Linked DNA regions of Homo sapiens. The protein of the gene in region 1 interacts with the protein of each later gene in a biochemical or structural test. Each region holds a gene or a part of one and is shown in the gene's direction. Other genes may lie near its edges.

Region 1 (7,033 bases):
TTTCGGTGCTTTATTAACTCCTCTAATCCTCACTATTCTATGAGGCAGGTATTATTATTACTATTATCGTTATTATTATTATTGAGACGGAGTTTCGCTCTTGTTGCCCAGGCTGGAGTGCAATGGCGTGATCTCGGCTCACCGCAACCTCTGCCTTCCGGACTCAAGCGATTCTCCTTCCTCAGCCTCCCAAGTAGCTGGGACTACAGGCATGTGCCACCACGCCTGGCTAATTTTGTATTTTTAATAGAGATGGGGTTTCTCCATGTTGGTCAGGCTGGTCTCGAACTCCCGACCTCAGGTGATCCGCCTGCCTTGGCCTCCTAAAGTGCTTGGATTACAGAGCCACCACGCTCGGCGAGGCAGGTATTATTATTATCCTCACTTTACAGATGAAGAAATGGAGGCAGAAAAATTAAGATGTTTGCACCACTTTGTGCAGGAAATGTGGTAACTGAGGTCACAGCCAGGCCATCTGGCTCTGAGGCCTGCACCACACTGTTGTGCTACTTTTGCATTTACGGGAAAGGGCTAAGCACAGACAAAATGTGAGTGCGTTATTTGGGAATTTTAAGCAAAGCCTCATTGGTAAGTTGGCTCATTTTCTTCCCTTCTATGGCAGTTACACAGTTTTTTATTCTTAACTCATGTGGGACAAGGAAGGGTCTTTTGAAATGAAAGGATCAAATCTGAGCTTTTAAATTCTAGTCTGTTTTCTCCTCTTTTCTGCTAAGAGAGTAGATTTCTAAATCAGTTCTGATTTTATTTACCCTTACGGTTTAGAGTGTGCCTGACTTTCATGATACTTGGCTGTCTTCTGCCATAATAAAGTGTCTGCCTTTAAATTTGATGTCCCTTGATCATTTTGTTTTCAAAAAAGAGATTGCTATTTTTAAAAACCCAAAATATGTAGATCTTGGTTTTTAAATACCATTCTATAATAAAACAAGTCAGGAATCCTTGAAGAAATCATTGATTCCAAATGAGGGGAAATACAAGATGAGCCTGGAACATCTTTTAGTACCGCCAGAAAGTGAGAGAAAGAAGAAAAACTGGAGGAAAAAAAAAAAAAGGGAAGCAAGTCAGGGACATAGGAACCAACATGAAGGAAATCTTAGTGATTAGAGCTGGGATGTTTGAACCACAAAATAAATACTGATCGTCGGCTGGGCACGGTGGCTCACGCCTGTAATCCCAGCACTTTGGGAGGCTGAGGCGGGCAGATCACAAGATCAGGAGATCGAGACCATCCTGGATAACACGGTGAAACCCTGTCTCTACTAAAAAATACAAAAAGTTAACTGGGCGTGGTGGCTGGCGCCTGTAGTCCCAGCTACTCGGGAGGCTGAGACAGGAGAATGGCGTGAACCCGGGAGGTGGAGCTTGCAGTGAGCCGAGATCGCACCACTGCACTCCAGCCTGGGTGACAGTGCGAGACTCCATCTCAAAATAAATAAAATAAATAAATAAAATAAATAAATAAATAAATACTGATCGTCATGGATTATCTGTGTAATAAATATGTAGATATAAATCTGTACAGTAATATCCATGAGTCTGCTAAATTAAATAATTGAAAAACAAGTTGGAGGTTGGGCACAGTGGCTCAGGCTGGTAATCCCAGTACTTTGGGAGGCCAAGGCAGGTGGATCGCTTGAGTCTAGACGTTCGAGACCAGCCTTGGCAACATGATGAAACCCTGTCTCTACTAAAAATACAAAAGTTAGCCTGGTGTGGTGGTATGTGCCTGTAGTCCCAGCCACTTGGGAGGCTGAGGGAGGAAGATTGATTGAGCCCAGGAAGTTGAGGCTTCAGTGAGCCAAGATTGTGCCACTGCACTCCAGCCTAGGTGACAAAGTGAGACCCTGTCTCAACAAACAAACAGTGAACTGAAGGAAGAGCAGCTCTTTGTGTTTTTTGTTATGTTTTGTTTTTTGAGATGGAGTCTCGCTGTGTTACCCAGGCTGGAGTACAGTGGCACAGTCTCAGCTCACTGCACCCTCCGCCTCCCAGGTTCAAGTGATTTTCCTGCCTCAGCCTTCTGAGTAGCTGGGATTACAGGTACCCACTGCCATGCCCAGCTAATTTTTGTATTTTTAGTAGAGACACAGTTTCACCATGTTGGCCAGGCTGGTCTTGAACTCCTGACCTTGAATGATCCACCCTCCTCGGCCTCCCAAAGTGCTGGGATTACAGGCATGAGCCACCGTGCCCAGCCTATTATAGTAGAATTCTAATTAGTACATATGGAAGGAATGATGGAAATAATTTGTCAGTAGTTACTTACAAGTAGTCATTTTTGTAGGTAAGCACTACCAATGGATGCTATTATAAAATTAGTGATAATATGAGAAACGGTATTTATATAGTCTGAAAATATCTCTCCATTAATTATTAACTACAAAGGAAAAACTGATAGCTTCATGACAGAGAAACCTGAGAGATAACACCTTGCCTGATGGTCAGCGTTTACCGGGTCCATGTTGACACTATGTAGCTTGCTACTGTGCCCCAAGAAGGGCACAAGCTCGTTACTGTGTTGTTCTTGCCAGAATTGCATAACCTCAATCTAGTAATGAGGAAATACTAGACAAACCCAAATGGAAGTTTCTGTAAAACAACTGACCAGTGGGGAAACAAAGACTGGCCACACTTAGAGAATGGAGGAGACCAAAGAGATGTGACAGGCAGGATCCTGGGCCAAGAAAAGAGCATCGGTGAAGTTGAAGTTTCACTTCAAACTTGTGAAGTTTCAGTAAGGCCTGTTGATGAATTAATAGTAATATGTCCATGTTAGTTTCAATAATTATACAGTTATGTAAGGTGTTAACATTAGGGGAAGCTGGATAAAGGGCATATAGGAACTCTGTGTACTCATTTTGTAACCCTTTTGTTAGTGTAAAATTATTTTTTAAAAGTCTAAAAAATGTAAAAAGAAAAATATAGGCCAGACATGGTGGCTCGACACCTGTAATCCCAGCACTTCGGGAGGCCAAGGCAGATGGATTGCCTGAGCTCAGGAGTTTGAGCCCAGCCTAGGCAACATGGTAAAACCTCATCTCTACACAACCCCCCACCCCCCCAGAAACAACTTAGCTGGGCATGGTGGTGTGTACCTTGGTCCCAGCTCCTCAGGAGGCTGAGGTGGGAGGATTGCTTAAGCCCAGGAGGTGGAGGTTACAGTGAGCTGAGATTGCGCCACTGCTTTCCAGTTTGGGCAACAGAACTAGACCCTGTCTCAAAAATAAATAAATTTTAAAAAAAGAAAACAGTCTGTCTTGTCTAGGGTGTAGTAGACAATGATGGTATTTCATACATTCGGTAGTCAAATCGTTGAAGTCTTGTCTAGGCTGTAGTAGACAGTGATGGTGTTTCATACATTCAGTAGTCAAATCACTGAGGACCTGTCATGTGCTAGGTACAGTGCCGACTGTCATGGAAACGAGATGGAAATACGCCGACTATCATGGAAACAAGATGGAAATAGAGCTCCCTGCTCTCAAGGAGCTTAGAGAGGCCGAGACAATCATGCACACAGTTGTTATCAGTTAGGTCATGTCCATAATGTGTGCAGATGAACGTTCAGTGGGTGTGTAGTAGAAAGAACCCCTAATGTATCTATGGAAATTAAAAAATCTTATTTAGAGACATTTTGGATTTAAATAACTTTATGCTCAGGTTGAATTCTTTGTAGTAGATTTTGCCACTTTTGCCATTGGTCACCTGCAATGAAAAGCTTCAGGGTAGGTGGCAGTAAACCGATTTCCATGGTATCACCAGAGTCCTGCCTATGTGGGCATCATTTGCTTTATGCAGCGTGTACTGAAATGAGAGAGAAAGGGGGAAGGAAGGAAAAGGGGAAAAGGAAAGAAATCTGGCCTAGCACAGTATCAGATGCCTACTTCATTTATCATTTGTAAACGGACCGTGGGAAGTTCTTGGCTCTGGAAGAAAAGGAGGGCGGCGCTGGGTGAGGGTCTGGGGTGGGAAGAAAGGAAGGGAAGGTGCATCCCCTCAGTGCGTGGGGCAGTTGTGAGTGTGAGGCTCTGTGAAGCCTCGGGGCTCAGAGAGCTTTTCCTTTTTTCGTTCCTGAGCGTGTAAGTCTTAGGATTTTGTGTCTGAAAGTAGCTTCTGATAATTAAGTGAAACCAGTGATCAGAACCTGTCTTCAGGAGCAGAATGTAAGATGTAAATAATGTTCATTTGGAATGCTTCCCAATTGTGGTCTCTCTTGGTTGCAAAAATAGTGATGTGGCAGAGGGACTACAGGTTTCTGAAGACAAGCTGCAGGCAGGACTGTCGCCTTTCTCCTTGTATTACAGAGAGGAGGTGAGACAGTGTTTCTATTTCAGCCATCCCCCCTTTCCCTTTCATGCCTCCTTAGTCACCAGTTACCAGGTTATTTGATTTCAAAAGTCTTTTTTGCAGATAAATTGTTGAATAACCTCATTTCCATGTGAAACTTCGGTTCCCGTCTCCCTACACGTTTCTTATTTTCTATTATCAATGAGAGAGGAATGAGTATATCATGCTTAGGGGAGCTGAGCAGGAAATAAGCTGTTAGCCCTAAATAGAGGAATTAAAGGAGGGTGTTGACGGCCCAGGAAAGCAGGGCGGCTTCATTGTGGCAGCCCTCATTTGCTGGCCTCAAGAAACAGCCCCACTGTCGGGGCTGTGTGGGTGCAGTTCTGTCTCCAGGCCTTTCCCTGCACCGTGTCCCACATGTGGATGTTCTGCCCTGACTTGTTTCATGATGACATATCAGATGTGCTCATTTGGATCCAGAGGAGATAACACTGAAACCTGGATTTTGATCAAGATGCTATAGTTTGTAAAAATGGATTGTAAAATAACTAGTGTCTGTTTGATACAGAATTTCAGAAACTGTGGAGGAGTGTCACTGTAGATTCCATGGACGAGGAGAAAATTGAAGAATATCTGAAGCGACAGGGTATTTCTTCCATGCAGGAATCTGGACCAAAGAAAGTGGTGCGTAATCTCTAGCAAAGCAGCTTAATCCCCTGCCCTGGGAACTGTTAGCCTGCTCCGCTTTCTGCCCTCTGAAGAGCTGGGAGTTGTTCCCCCGCCATTGTTTCTCAGTGTCCGCAGCCCAGGTCACATCTGAGGTATTGCAGGCCTGCAGACCCGCCCTCGGTGCTGCTCCAGGCCTGTGAGTGCCTTTCTACACCCAGCTCCTCCCAAGCAGTCCTGCTCTTGAGGTATAGCCATATGGAACCTTCCAGGGCCTGTGTGTTCCCCACTCTCCCACTCTAAGCTGCTACAAGCCCTTCTCCCTATTCTTAAAGGGATGCTGTGCCTTGATCTGCACAACCTTTCAGACTTGAACGGGGCCCTCCCCTGCTCCGTGAGCCTCGCCGTCCTGGTGCCTGGTTCTGCCATAGTAACTTTCAGGTCCTCTAGGAACCAGATATTTTTGTCCGTATAGTCTCTAAATCCTGCTCACAGGGGATGTTAGTAATTAAATGATGACTTTTACATTGCCTTGCACCAGCAAATAAAATCTGTAGTCTAAGAACAAAGCCCGGGGGGATGATTCACCAGCACCCTTGTTAGCAGTGCTGTGCTCCTCCCCCCTTTCCTTATCCACCGTCATGCTTCATAGCTTGTCACCTGTGTCTTTCTGGGGTGTGGGGTGGGCATGTGTGTTTGGTGAATTTTTAGGACTCACCTAAAGGGAAGCTTTATTGTCAATCTCTTTCCACAAATGAGTGTAATTGCAGCCCTTCATGATTTCCTATTATTGTCTCATTTGTTAATTTTTTTCATCATGTGATGCTAATATTTCAAGTATATAGAAAAGAATAGAGAATATTACAGACCTTCATGTGCTCCTCCTTTCTCAGGATTTTGCCATATTTTCTTCAGATCTTTTTAAAATCGGTAATGGTGGATACGTTTTTAAACCTGATGACAGAGACAGAGCTGAAGGGCTTCATCGTCCCTTTTGTTTGACTTAGTGCCTAGAACCATTTTGGCAGGTTTTTGTGCCTGCTCCTTCATTCCCGATGGCATCTGCATCTCAGGGGAACAAAGGCCCGGGGTCTGGTCAGGGCGTGTGCTGTGCCCCATGTGTGCTGCTGGGTGGCAGAGCAGGAGAAGGGTCCGAACCTGGCATCCTCAGCCACTGGCATCTGGGCATGCTCAGAACATCCTGGCCACACCACCCCTCAGAGCAGCTGTTGTTTCTAATTGTTTTTACCTTTTCCTTTAGGCCCCTATTCAGAGAAGGAAAAAGCCTGCTTCACAGAAAAAGCGACGCTTTAAGACTCATAACGAACACTTGGCTGGAGTGCTGAAGGATTACTCTGACATTACTTCCAGCAAATAGGGAACAGTTTTGCCCTGGAACAGAGTTACAGATACACAATCAAGAGTGTTCTTGCTGATGCTCGGGGTCTGAAGACTGTCTTCCTATCTGCTTCTTGCGGCTGAGGAGAGGAGCAGTTCAGTTTACAAAACAAGTGCAAATTACCAAACTCAAAGCTTATTTGAGTAGAATGGGCTCATGGGCAATGTGATGTTCCCTGTTAACCTTCTGTTACTCCCTGGGAGAAAGGCGCTGAGCGTGGCATGCAGGTGTCTTTGCTGTGTTTTTCTCCACTTCTAAATGGTTCCTGGTTCCTTTCTTCCTCGTTTGTTACTTTAGAGCAAGTTTGCCCATAGTCTTGAATGCAATATTTGTTTATTCCAAAAGAACATATTTATAATAAAATCACTGTAGAAGGATTTTTAAGATGTTAGTGAATTCTGTTTCTTTTCATTCTCGGAAATGGCAGGAAGCAGCTCCAGTCTCTGATTTCCATGGGTCACGTGCTGGGGATGTGATGAAGCCTGCAGTCTGCACTGTGTTGCTGAGCACATGGATTTCACCACTGGAACACAGGTGTGCTGCTTGTTAGCAAGCAGAGCAATAAAGATGTGCTGGATGTCATTGTTAATGTTTTCTTTTAAAAAGAAGCGTCAGTGTCAGCCGGGCAAGCTGGCTCACGCCTGTAATCCCAGCACTTTGGGA
Region 2 (7,033 bases), on another chromosome or scaffold:
GAGAATTGCTTGAACCTGGGAGGCAGAGGTTGTGGTGAGCCAAGATCATGCCACCACACTCCAGCCCGGACAACAGAGCAAGACTCCATCTGAAAAAATAATAATAATAAAAAATAAAAAATCGATAATATTGACAATAAAGATATTTTCATTGCAGGTACTTACTAAAAGCAACATTCAGTGTTCTGAACATAAGTTACTCTTCTTTTTGTGGAACTGTGGGAAAAGGGTAAAAGGCTTTTTAGGAAAACTGTATACAAAGGTTTTCACTCTGGGCCTTAATGGATGGAGATCTTACAATGTGAATCGAGAAATAATAGTGGTTAAATGTGTAACCTGTTTTATTGGTAGAGATAACACAGGCAAAATCTTTTTTGCAGGAAGAGATTTAGGACTCAGTGGTTTTTTGAGTCTCTATTTGAAAACTATTGCAGAGGAAGTATCACATTTATTAGCCTTTAGTATTAGATTTTATTAAACATTCTTTTCATTCTTTTCCATTTTTTTTTCATTTGCAGCTTTGAAATTTATTTTGTGTATTGATAATTTCAAACAATTTTTTTTTAAAGTAGTAGCTTAAGAGACTTGCTGGTTCAGACCCCAGGAAAGGTATTTATGAGCATGAAAGCTTAGAAGCAATTTCTTTTTAATGACTCACTGGGAAGATTAAACTTTGCTTCTAGGACTTGTTCTTTCTTCTGAGAAACATTTACATAGGAAATTGATTAAACATTGTTTAGAGATGATAAAGCTTATCAAAAGTTAAGTATAATTTGATTCAGCAAATATTTTTTACTGGTTTTGTGGAGAATCCAAAGATGAATAATCTCTTCTTGCCCTTTTGTTCATAGACTAAATAGAATTGCTGGAGTGGAGATAGAAATAATTAGTCTTGAAAGTAGAGAGTAATGTTTTTAAAAAATAATAATACAGTCACCCAAGAATTTGGCAGATATTTTTGGTTCTATAGAATGTAGTAGCTGTTTACTTGATGGCCTACATCGTTTCTAGTGAAAGATTAGAAATAATGTCCTACTTTAGTAAAAGTATCTCCGTAGCAGCATTCCTAGTCTGTTAGCCAGTATTATTTATATTCAAGGATCTCAAACAACAACTCTTATTAAGGATAAGTTACAGTTTTAGAAGTGCACAGTAGGTAACTTTTACCTAAAAATATCTATATAGAAGAATAAATTTATTTTTGGCTACTTTATGAAAAGGTAAACCTTTACGAGTTGGGAGGAGACCTACTGGTCAGGGTCACCATGTGAAGTGCAAATTAAAGGGAAGGTTATCTAGTACTCATTCCATACTGGGAAAAAATGAAAATAGAGGATTTTTCTGTTTTGCTTACAAAAAGAAAAGGTGAAATTCCTCATTGACACTTTAACGTCAGTGCGAACTCCCATTATAAGAAAGTGAATCCGAGTGTTGTCTCGTTATCAGGAGACGGAAGAATTGGTATTTGATTTCATTAACTCTATTAATGACAGGGGATAGTCTTCATAATGTTTACTGGGAACCCAGAGGAGAAGTAGCAGTAGTTTAGGAGCCCAGAGATTCCAAATCTCTGCTAGGATGTAGACTGTAAGTGTAACCCCTGACATCGTGATCCCACCCATTCCCTCTCTGGGTTTGGCAGATCAGTGCTTTCTGGCCCTGGGAGAAGTCCCCTCGCTGCCTTTGACCAGTGCTAGGGGCTCTAGTATGTCTTGGCTTTCCTGAAGTCCAGTCCAGTTCTACCTAAGACAATTTGTTTAAACAGAGTTTATCCCTGTATAACTTCAGAATGGACAATAACTCATTCGATTATTTTCTCTGGAAGTGGCTCAAAACATGGTTCTCACCTAAATGCGTATTACCAGATTACTCTCAGTGGTCCTGGGCAGGGCAAAGCCAGGCAAAAGCCCTGCTGCAGGAGGGTCCACAGAAGAATAAAAAGCTGACAGCCTCACAAGAACCTTTTATGCCTTCCCTCCTTTTCTTTAATCAGAATAACTGAGTTGTTTTCAAGATGCATTAGGGAAAGTGTGGCATTACAGCAGGAATAGAAGATAGTCTCTGCCCTTGAGGAACTTTAAAAGCTAGTTAAGGAGGCAAAATACAACTATTTGAAGCCTTCCTAAAGCAGTATATGTGCAAGTGCAAATTGATAGCTCAACAGAAATTTCAGTGATGGGGATACAGAGAAGTGAAATGATCTCTCCTGGTCTGTTCAGAGGCTTTCTAGAAGGAGTGAGGTATCGGATTTTAAAGAAAGTGATAAATATAAATTGAGGAGAGAAAGGAATTTCTCTTTTGTTGCTTTTGTTTTTGTTTTTGGCAATCAGCTTCCTTAGGTTGAATGGGCACAATATTGATGGTGTTATCTGGTAAATAATTAGATGCATTTACAAATGCTAATAATACTAATCTTTGATATGGACCTTCTGTTCCAAGTATAGGAAATGTGTGACAATGAGTTTTAATAGAAAGGTTTTTGATGGAAAATTACTGGCATAGACGTAAAAATATGAATTAGTGAGCTAAAATCATCCTCCTACTTTATCTCTTTTCTTAGATATCTAAATCATTTTCCTATGAATTTCTTTAATAAGTGTTTCCTATTTTTCTCCCTTTTGATTTTTAGAAGCAAATCTAATATGAGCCTATTTCAGAGACTAAATTTCGTAAGTCTCAAATGATGGGAAAAATCTAATTATTATTGAATTGCATGAAAATATTTTCCTCTTGAAATAAGAGCCCATTTTGAGCTTCAAGGACTCTTAAGTTCTAAGAGTTTAGATTAGGTTGAAATAATTTATTCTACTTTAAAAGTTTGGATTGTTTAGGTTCGCAGAACAAGATACAAGATTTTAAGTTCTTTGAGGCCAGAAACCAAGTCTTATTTGAGTTTTGCAAGGCATTTAGTACAGGTTACACCTTCACTAATAAACAGTGACTTTAATTCTCATGATATTTTAGCTTTATCAGATATTGATTGAGTTGTCTTTTAGTCACCAGGAAGGAAACCGATGTGTAAATTTGCTGCAATAAACTTTTAAAACATTATCTAAAATAACTATTTTAAGATAAATATTTTATCAGTGATTTTTATTCTTTTGTTAGAAGAATCTATGTAGAACATTTTAGGGAAAGGCCTTGGTATGTCTATTGAATGTGTTCAGCAGAGCAGAGAAACTTCCCATTCCATTGTGATAGGTTCAGAAGTCATTCAGAGGGGGGAAAAAAAAGGACAATTTTCAGTTTGTTGCTGAGGATTTTTAAAATGGCTTACAAACATGTTCCACTAACCCACTGAAATTCACTTACCCTGGGGGAAAGGAGCTATCGTTAGGTGATACCTGGGAATTGGCAATACCTGAACAGTGCTCAGGACCCCACAGGCCCCACAGAGGCTGGCACTGCCAGGTTGTGCTCTCTGTTTCAGATCGTCTGGGGTTCAAGGCTTGCTGTGAGTCCATTAAGCCATTCCTTAGCTGACCTTCGCAAGTGGCTTTAGAATCTGGAAATGAATTTGAACAATATGTATGTGTTCCTTAAATCGTTCAAAGAGAGTGTATTAGTGTTTGCTAATGGAAGATTTAAGTGAGACATTAAGGAAAAGTGGCAGACCAGGATTCTTAATGTGGAGCTCATCGTTTTGCTTCTAACTCTACGGGGTTATTGTGAGGAAGCGAGATAATGAGAAGTACCTCGCTCTGGAGTATGTGCTCCATGGCTGCTGGTGCCTGCTCCCTTTTCCTTTTACCGGTAATGTTTCTGCTTAACATTTTTGTAAAGTATGTTAATGACTTTATCAGCGTGGATAGTATGCATGTTTAACTTGAACATAGTTTTCAAAGATTAGAGATTCTAGCAAAATACTCCTGTAATTTAAAAACAGAATGAGAAAACACATACTTTGAGATAAAGTGGGAGCTTGTTTTCTGTGCTGTACAAACTTGTCACTTTTTTCTTTTTGCCTTTGGAAAGTTTCACGTTAACAGCATGAGAACTTAAAAATACAGTTGATGTTGAAAGAGCTTAACTAAATATTTTAAATTGGTGGTATTGGAAAGAGATTCTGTAAAAATCCAATTAAACTTTTGAAAGCTCTATCCTGTTGAAATATAACTTAAAGGAAGTCAGTTTGGTTTCCCAGAAGTACTGTGCATAGTGTTTCTGGCTGAGGAAGAAAGGCCCAAGTCTGCTGTTTGGCCAGAAATTGGGTACCAGTTTCCTCTACGATGTTTTACTTGAACGGTGTTGACACTTGAACAAATCCCATAGAAACTGCCCCAAGTGGGGGGATAGTTGTCCTTACTTTTATGGTAAGACTTGGCCCCAGTAACTAACATTCCAGACACTGGTAGTATTCTTGGCTGAATACTCTATAGATGTGCATAAATTGAGAGCAAAACCCCAAATGTTTTAGAAACTTTAATGGCTACCGTATTTCAAGCAATCAGTAAAGTAAACTTTAAAAAATACTGGTGCAGTTTATTGCTTCATAGCCAATAAAAATAGTGAACAAAAAGAGTCTAGTGTCCCTTGTTTCTTACATAAACTCTGAAAATTCAGTTCTGCTATTTAATTATTAAATTCAAAAGACTAGAATGATTTCTTTTAAAATTGGGAGCACTATAGGAATTTTTTTCCTTGTCTCAGACATCAGAAATAACTTTTTCTTTCCATTAAATGACAGTAAAGTATTTAACCAATATGTTTGTTTCTGTGGTTTATTTTTCACAGGGAACAAAAACTAATAGTACTGTGCAAAAATTTTTTTTGTGATCAATTTACATCTACAAATGTGATAGCTATATTTACTACTGGTGTTAAAATATTTCTATATATCAGACATTTTATGTGATTGTAAGTGACAGAACGTGATTTATACTTTGTTTTGTAAATGGCTTGAGTGTCTTAGGTTAAATTTCTGGTTAGAATCTACTATGAGGGGAGAAAAAACTTCTAGAATTGAGATGTTCATTTTTAAAGTGGATTGATAGGAACCAGAAAGGGAATTAAAACAAAAACTGTCTGGGTCAGAGGCAGAGGAGAGAAGAGAGGAAGTATGGCACAGCAATCCATACCATGGGAAATGTAGGTGAACTCTCAAGGGAAAAAAAATTGGGACCACTTTCATGTCGTCTGTTTTGGCACTTTCTTCTTTGTCTGAGAGTCAGAGTGGTTATCATGACAACAAAAATATATTAACCACAAATTGTAGAAATCTCAGTTGATGAGGACAGGGTCTTTTAAAGTTTAGACTGACTTGGTTAATCCTACAACTTCCTGAACATGATACTGCTAAATTAGGCAGAAAGGTTGTGCAGTTTCTGTTTCGTCAGAACTAAACAAGTGTTCAAAGCAACTCTGAGGTTCCTCCCTTTCAGAAGGAAACATTTTTTTAAGGGAATTTAAGAGGTGAAAAAGTATCTATATAAAACTCAGCAGTAAGCCAGTAATACTTTAATATACAAATTTATCTCACGAATTCTTATAAAAAATTCATAGAAAATTATAAAATCATAAATGTAGGAACTGCTAGTTAATGCTCACTGAAAGAACGTTTTGGCATTTATTCCTACTGGAATATATGATCTCCAGTAGGATTCTTCACAAACAGAGAATTAAGACTACATTATGAATATTTAGTGGTTTTGAAAGTTAAACAGCTGGCAAGCTTTGGGGAGCATTAGGAATAATATACATTACAGGATGGGAGGGAGGAACATACCAACTCAATACTCAAGGGAAGAGAACTGTGAAAGAATGGAATGGGTAGGTTGAACAATTTCAGACTTTTAGATGTATATTACACATGTAAGCTCCATGAGGCCAACTGTTTTTATTTTGTTAGCCATTGTATCACAAGTATTTGGGACAGTTCCTGGCCTATAATAGATGCTTGGCGAATTGTTTATGGAATGAATTTTGGGTGTAACACATGACAAAGAAAAACTAAATACAAGTCAACAAATGTCAGTTTTTACAGTTGTTTCATGGTCTTTTTTTTTTACCAATGTGAAGTTATCAGTACCAGACTATTTTGCTTCAATCTGCAAAAGGAAGGTGTGTGAAGGTGTGTGTGACTCTCAAAGAGTGAATGCCCTAATAGTCCATTTTGGAGGCCATGTTTTCAAGTGAACTGATTGATGAGCTGCAAGCTTCTGTCTGGCTAATTTAGAAACATCTAGGACCAGTTTCTGGTTAAGCAGTTGTGGTACATGAAATTCAATGTATAGGTGATTCGTGCAACAGCTTCTGAATTTTTTCCTCCCTCACCCACCTTACAGCCATTAGTCCTATAATAATTTAATTTGGGTTTGTTGGTATAGAAACTGTATTTGCACAATAATGATAAAGCCACTCAGGCTCATCTAGTCATTTCCTGGATTTATGTGTGTAGGAGTACATAAAAATAAGGGCACTGATTCGTTTTGTACTTGTCTAAAATTGTTATTCTTCAGTTGTTCAAAGGTACACAAAATGCTTTTTTCTTTATGAGGTAAAAAATACTTGGAGGTTATAAGAAATAACTCTTAACTAGCTTACTTTGAGTGGCTTTGATATGTATTTACTCATAATGGAATTCATGAGCTTTCCTTCTTTCGCTTGGCCAAGATTTTTTTTTTCTTTGAAATTCCTTCTCCGGTGTTATCTAGGATGTTTGCATTACAAGCAGGCCGCTTTACCTCCTTTGTTCGTTGTCACAGGTGAAAAGCCATACAAGTGTACCTGGGAAGGCTGCGACTGGAGGTTCGCGCGATCGGATGAGCTGACCCGCCACTACCGGAAGCACACAGGCGCCAAGCCCTTCCAGTGCGGGGTGTGCAACCGCAGCTTCTCGCGCTCTGACCACCTGGCCCTGCATATGAAGAGGCACCAGAACTGAGCACTGCCCGTGTGACCCGTTCCAGGTCCCCTGGGCTCCCTCAAATGACAGACCTAACTATTCCTGTGTAAAAACAACAAAAACAAACAAAAGCAAGAAAACCACAACTAAAACTGGAAATGTATATTTTGTATATTTGAGAAAACAGGG
Region 3 (5,078 bases), on another chromosome or scaffold:
TTTACAGGACATGTGTAGTCTTCCAGATTATGTGACATTTAAGAGTTTCCCTGGAATACCTTTGCATCACATCTTCAGTGCAGCAGGAGACGACTTACTAGATCTCATACAAGGCTTATTCTTATTTAATCCATGTGCTCGAATTACGGCCACACAGGTATTTTGGTGTATCTTTTTTATACTAGGAAATATAAAAATAATCTTAACTGTAGCATTGATAAAAATAGAATTTCATAAAATTAACATTTTTTAAATACTGGAAAGATGTGTTTTTGTTTTAAGAAATAACAAACTTTGTATCTTTTCCCCAAACTACAAACACTATTAAGACTGAGATTAAATTATATGCACACAGAGATACAGGAGAGTTTACACTTATTACACTTGCTTAGGGACATTTAAATACATGTCTATTTCACATAATTGGCTTGTAAATACTTTACTTAGAAAAAGAAAACCAAGGCTTTTTATTTGTTAAGAAACTGGTATATTTCAGTTGAGCTCTTACAAATTCATTTAAATCTTGTAGCAATGCTGAAAGTAGTTTGTTCGGCTTATTTTTTCTTTCCTATATAATGCAATCCAGGTATGCATGCTGATCATTCTCACATTGAGAACATGGTAATGGGGAGGAAATGGTATAGTCAGATATAATTGTATGCTTACAAAAGCTTGAAAAATATTTGAAATAAAACAAAAACTGAAACTAACTGCTGTTTAAAGGAAATAACAAACTCATGAAAAATTTGGAAGACCTAGAATAACTTAGGGCAGAGCACTGTACAACACAGTGCAGTGATTTTACCTCATGAAGGGAGAGACTAATGAAAGTGAGATCACAGGTCTTTATGGAAACATATTAATGTACAGTAATATTAAGCATACAAAATAGATTTTTTTCTCTTTAGGTTTGTTCCAGGCTACAAAATCATTGTTTAATGCACTTGCTTGTATAAGCCTTCTCTTTTTAGCAATGTGTGCTATGTGAATATATATGGAGATGGATGGATGGATGGAAGGATAGATAGATATAGATGGATAGGTAGGTAGGTATATGCTGGGTATTTACCATTAGAATTATTCTCCTAATTTCTTTTTTAAAAAATTTTTCTTTATTATTTTTATGTCCATGTGTACACATACTCTTTTAATTTCAAACAAGTAATTTGTTGCCTTTTCACTCATACTTCTATGTATATTATTTCCATCATAATAAACTTGAGACCACATTTAATTATCTAGAAAGTTGTTTTCATTGGTAGTATAGTTTGAAACTTAACAGAAAAATACTAGTTGTTGTATTTGGGTTGTATTTTAATAGAATGAAGTTTTTAAAGTGAGTTTTGTTTCATGGATGTCTTTATTAAAGTTGGAATGAGGTATTTTCTTAGATCTTTAGCCCAGAATTAGCCTAATTTGCATATAGAACTGCTGTGATTTAGAAGTAATGCTTTAAAAATGCAGCTGTAGGCCGGTGCATCGGCTCACACCTGTAATCCCAGCACTTTGGGAGGTGAAGGAGCAAGGATAGCTTGAGCCCAGGAGTTGGAGCCCAGCCTGGGCAACATGACAAAACATCATCTCTACAAAAAGTAAATAAATAAAAAATGAAAATGCAACTGTTGAAGTAAGGAATCTCTAAATTACTGCAAATAATATTGGGAGTGGTGAGGAATGCTTGCAAAGTTTATATGGGCTTCATCTTTCTTAAAGGATTATCCTAAAGGAAGTATTTATTTATTTATTTTTGAGACGAAGTCTTGCTCTGTCACCCAGGCTGGAGTGCAGTGGCACGATCTTGACTCACTGCAACCTCTACCTCCCAGGTACAAGCGATTCTCCTGTCTCAGCCTCCCTAGTAGCTGGGATTACAGGTGCACACCACCATGCCTGGCTAATTTTTGGATTTTTAGTAGAGACAGGGTTTCACCATGTTATCGAGGCTGATCTCGAACTCCTGACCTCAGGTGATCCATCTGCCTCGGCCTCCCAAAGTGCTGGGATTACAGGCATGAGCCACCCCGCCCTGCCAGAAGTATTTTAAATCATTGTAGCCACTGGACAGCACTATGCTGCTGATGTAAATAGACAAGCATGTGAACCCGGGAGGTGGAGGTTGCAGTGAGCCAAGATTGTGCCACTGCACTCCAGCCTGGGCAACAGGGTGAGACTCTGTATCCAAAAAAAAAAAAAAAGACAAGCATGACCTGACAAACTTGTCATTTAGGATATAATTATTTTTATCAGAATTGTGGACCCAAGTCAAGAAAATGTATTGTATCTACAGCACTATAGTAGGGGGAAAAAAAGAGAAAATGTATTATAGAACATTGGCCTGGTAATTAATAGAAATAATCTTGGAGAAGCCCTTCCAAGTAAAATTTCTGTCCATTTGCAATGGATTGTTGAATTAGAATCCATTGGTTCCAACCTACTGTATTTTTTAAAAAGCCTTATTTTTTAAGAATTTATATTTTACATGACTTGGAATTTGAATATATATGGATAGTGTGGCCAACTTGTAAGTTCTTTTTAAGTTTCTCTCTTTGCATTTTGAACTGTAGAGTTCAATATGTAGAGAATGGAAATGTACAATATTTCACTAAGGATAGCTCATAATTAGTATAGGTTGAGCATCCTTAATCCAAATATCCGAAATCTGAAATGCTCCAAAATCCAAAGCTTTTTGAATGATGACGTGATGCCACAAGTGGAAAATTCTACACATAAGGACATTAACAAAACTTTGTTTTATGTACAAAATTAAAAATTTTGTCAAATTAAAAATATTTTATAAAATTACCTTCAGCCAGGCGCGGTGGCTCACGCCTGTAATCCTAGCTCTTAGGGAGGCGGAGGCGGGAGGATAGCTTGAGCCCAGGAGTTCAAGACAAGCCTGGCCAATATAGCAAGACCCCATTCTCCACAAAAAATAAGTGTAAAATTACCTTCAGTTTATATGTATAAGCTGTATATGAAACATAAGTTTCATTTTTAATCTTGGCTTCCATCCCCAAGGTACGTCATGTATATGCAAATATTCCACAGTCCAAAATCTGAAGCACTTCTGGTCCCAAGCATTTTAGATAAGATATATTCAGCCTGTATAGGCTATTTAATTATGGAAAAATTAGAAGGGAGTCTTTTTTTCTTTTCTTTTTTTGATACGGAGCCTTGCTCTGTCGCCCAGGCTGGAGTGCAGTGGTGCGATCTCGGCTCACTGCAACCTCTGCCTCTGGGTTCAAGCGATTCTCCTACCTCAGCCTCCCGAGTAGTGGGGACTACAGACATGCACCACCACGCCCAGCTTATTTTTGTATTTTTAGTAGAGATGGAGTTTCGCCACGTTGGCCAAGCTGATCTCGAACTTCTGACCTCATGTGATCCACCCGCCTCAGCCTCCCAAGGTGCTGGGATTACAGGCATGAGCTACTGTGCCCGGCCAGTCTTTTAATGGAATTATCAGCCAATCTTAGGATCCTAGGTATTTATTTGTAGTAATTTCCATTTGCAAATACTTGACATTAATTTTGTTTTGTTGGGAATGAGGGCATTCACATAGTATTTTTAATGCTCCCTATAATCTTGAAGGTAAGATTTTCCTTAACACATTTCAGATACTCACCTACCTTACTTTTGGTATCTTTTCTTTTAAAAGGCACTGAAAATGAAGTATTTCAGTAATCGGCCAGGGCCAACACCTGGATGTCAGCTGCCAAGACCAAACTGTCCAGTGGAAACCTTAAAGGAGCAATCAAATCCAGCTTTGGCAATAAAAAGGAAAAGAACAGAGGCCTTAGAACAAGGTAAGATTCCCACTTTTAAAAGAAATTAAATGAATTTAGAAAACTCCAAATAGCTCGTGTATGGCTAGCGACTGAACAACAGCAAAGAAATGTAGCTTGCTAGCTATTTAATTTTTATAAATTTAATTGTATAAAGTAGAGAGACTGTGCCGTTTTAGGTATGTTTACTTTCATTGTGAATACTTCGGCAGCTTTTGTGTATACCTCAGAATTATGGGAACTATGTATGTGTACCTTGTTCCCTTCATAAATTCCTTCTGTAAACTACATGCTAAATGTTTAACAAGTGCTACTGGAAAAAATGTGTCAGTGAAATAATGTAGTTGGAATGCAGTGACTGGTTAAAATTGCTATGAGAATGTGAACTTTGTTAAATGTGAACAACTTTTTTTTTTCTTGTTCTTTTTGCTTCCTAGGAGGATTGCCCAAGAAACTAATTTTTTAAAGAGAACACTGGACAACATTTTACTACTGAGGGAAATAGCCAAAAAGGCAAATAATGGAAAAATAGTAAACATTAAGTAAATGCTGTAGAAGTGAGTTTGTAAATATTCTACACATGTAAAATATGTAAAACTATGGGTTATTTTTATTAAATGTATTTTAAAATAAAAATTTAATTCTGGTTTTTCTGATTAGAGTGCAAAAGTGAGAAAAGTTCAATACTCTTGAAATGTAGAATTGAAAATGCATTAGGGAAAACTTAATAAAAATTATTACCAGTTATTTGGAAGATCTGACCCATATAGTATCACAAATCTGTAGTAGCATGGGTAGTGTTTAAAAATAAAAATGTTGGCCGGGCGCGGTGGCTCACGCCTGTATTCCCAGCACTTTGGGAGGCCGAGGCGGGCGGATCACAGGTCAGGAGATCGAGACCATCCTGGCTAACACGGTGAAACCCCGTCTCTACTAAAAATACAAAAAAAATTAGCTGGGCGTGGTGGTGGGCGCCTGTAGTCCCAGCTACTCAGGAGGCTGAGGCAGGAGAATGGCGAGAACCCGGGAGGCAGAGCTTGCAGTGAGCCAAGATGGCGCCACTGTACTCCAGCCTGGGTGACAGGGCAAGACACAGTCTCAAAAAAAAAAAAAATGTAGTAGTGGTGTAGTAAATACTACCCAAACTTAACAAATATTAATATACGGAATGTACTAAAAAAAGAAAACATTACAGATAAAATTGAGATTCCCCCCAACCTTTTTTCTGAGGCGGGGGACAAAGTCTCACTCTGTCACTCAGGTTGGAGTGCAGGGGCACAATCCCAGCTCACT

The links.
Region 2: the proteins of GTF2E2 (region 1) and KLF5 form a complex in vitro, tested with the Homo sapiens proteins (one study listed by BioGRID).
Region 3: of the proteins of GTF2E2 (region 1) and CDK7, one has a biochemical effect on the other in vitro, tested with the Homo sapiens proteins (one study listed by BioGRID).

The regions. Positions count from the first base shown.
Region 1 is NC_000008.11:30,578,237-30,585,269, reverse strand, and holds the end of GTF2E2 (transcription initiation factor IIE subunit beta), read left to right. Parts: intron 1-111; coding exon of another isoform or gene 112-131; exon of another isoform or gene 132-845; intron 846-4,873; coding exon 4,874-4,989; intron 4,990-6,232; coding exon 6,233-6,349; 3' UTR 6,350-6,952; downstream 6,953-7,033. UniProt on the Homo sapiens protein: Recruits TFIIH to the initiation complex and stimulates the RNA polymerase II C-terminal domain kinase and DNA-dependent ATPase activities of TFIIH. Both TFIIH and TFIIE are required for promoter clearance by RNA polymerase.
Region 2 is NC_000013.11:73,069,004-73,076,036, forward strand, and holds part of KLF5 (Krueppel-like factor 5), read left to right. Parts: intron 1-6,704; coding exon 6,705-6,883; 3' UTR 6,884-7,033. UniProt on the Homo sapiens protein: Transcription factor that binds to GC box promoter elements. Activates the transcription of these genes.
Region 3 is NC_000005.10:69,272,885-69,277,962, forward strand, and holds the end of CDK7 (cyclin-dependent kinase 7), read left to right. Parts: intron 1-7; coding exon 8-157; exon of another isoform or gene 158-554; coding exon of another isoform or gene 555-595; intron 596-3,658; coding exon 3,659-3,806; intron 3,807-4,222; coding exon 4,223-4,251; 3' UTR 4,252-4,546; downstream 4,547-5,078. UniProt on the Homo sapiens protein: Serine/threonine kinase involved in cell cycle control and in RNA polymerase II-mediated RNA transcription. Cyclin-dependent kinases (CDKs) are activated by the binding to a cyclin and mediate the progression through the cell cycle.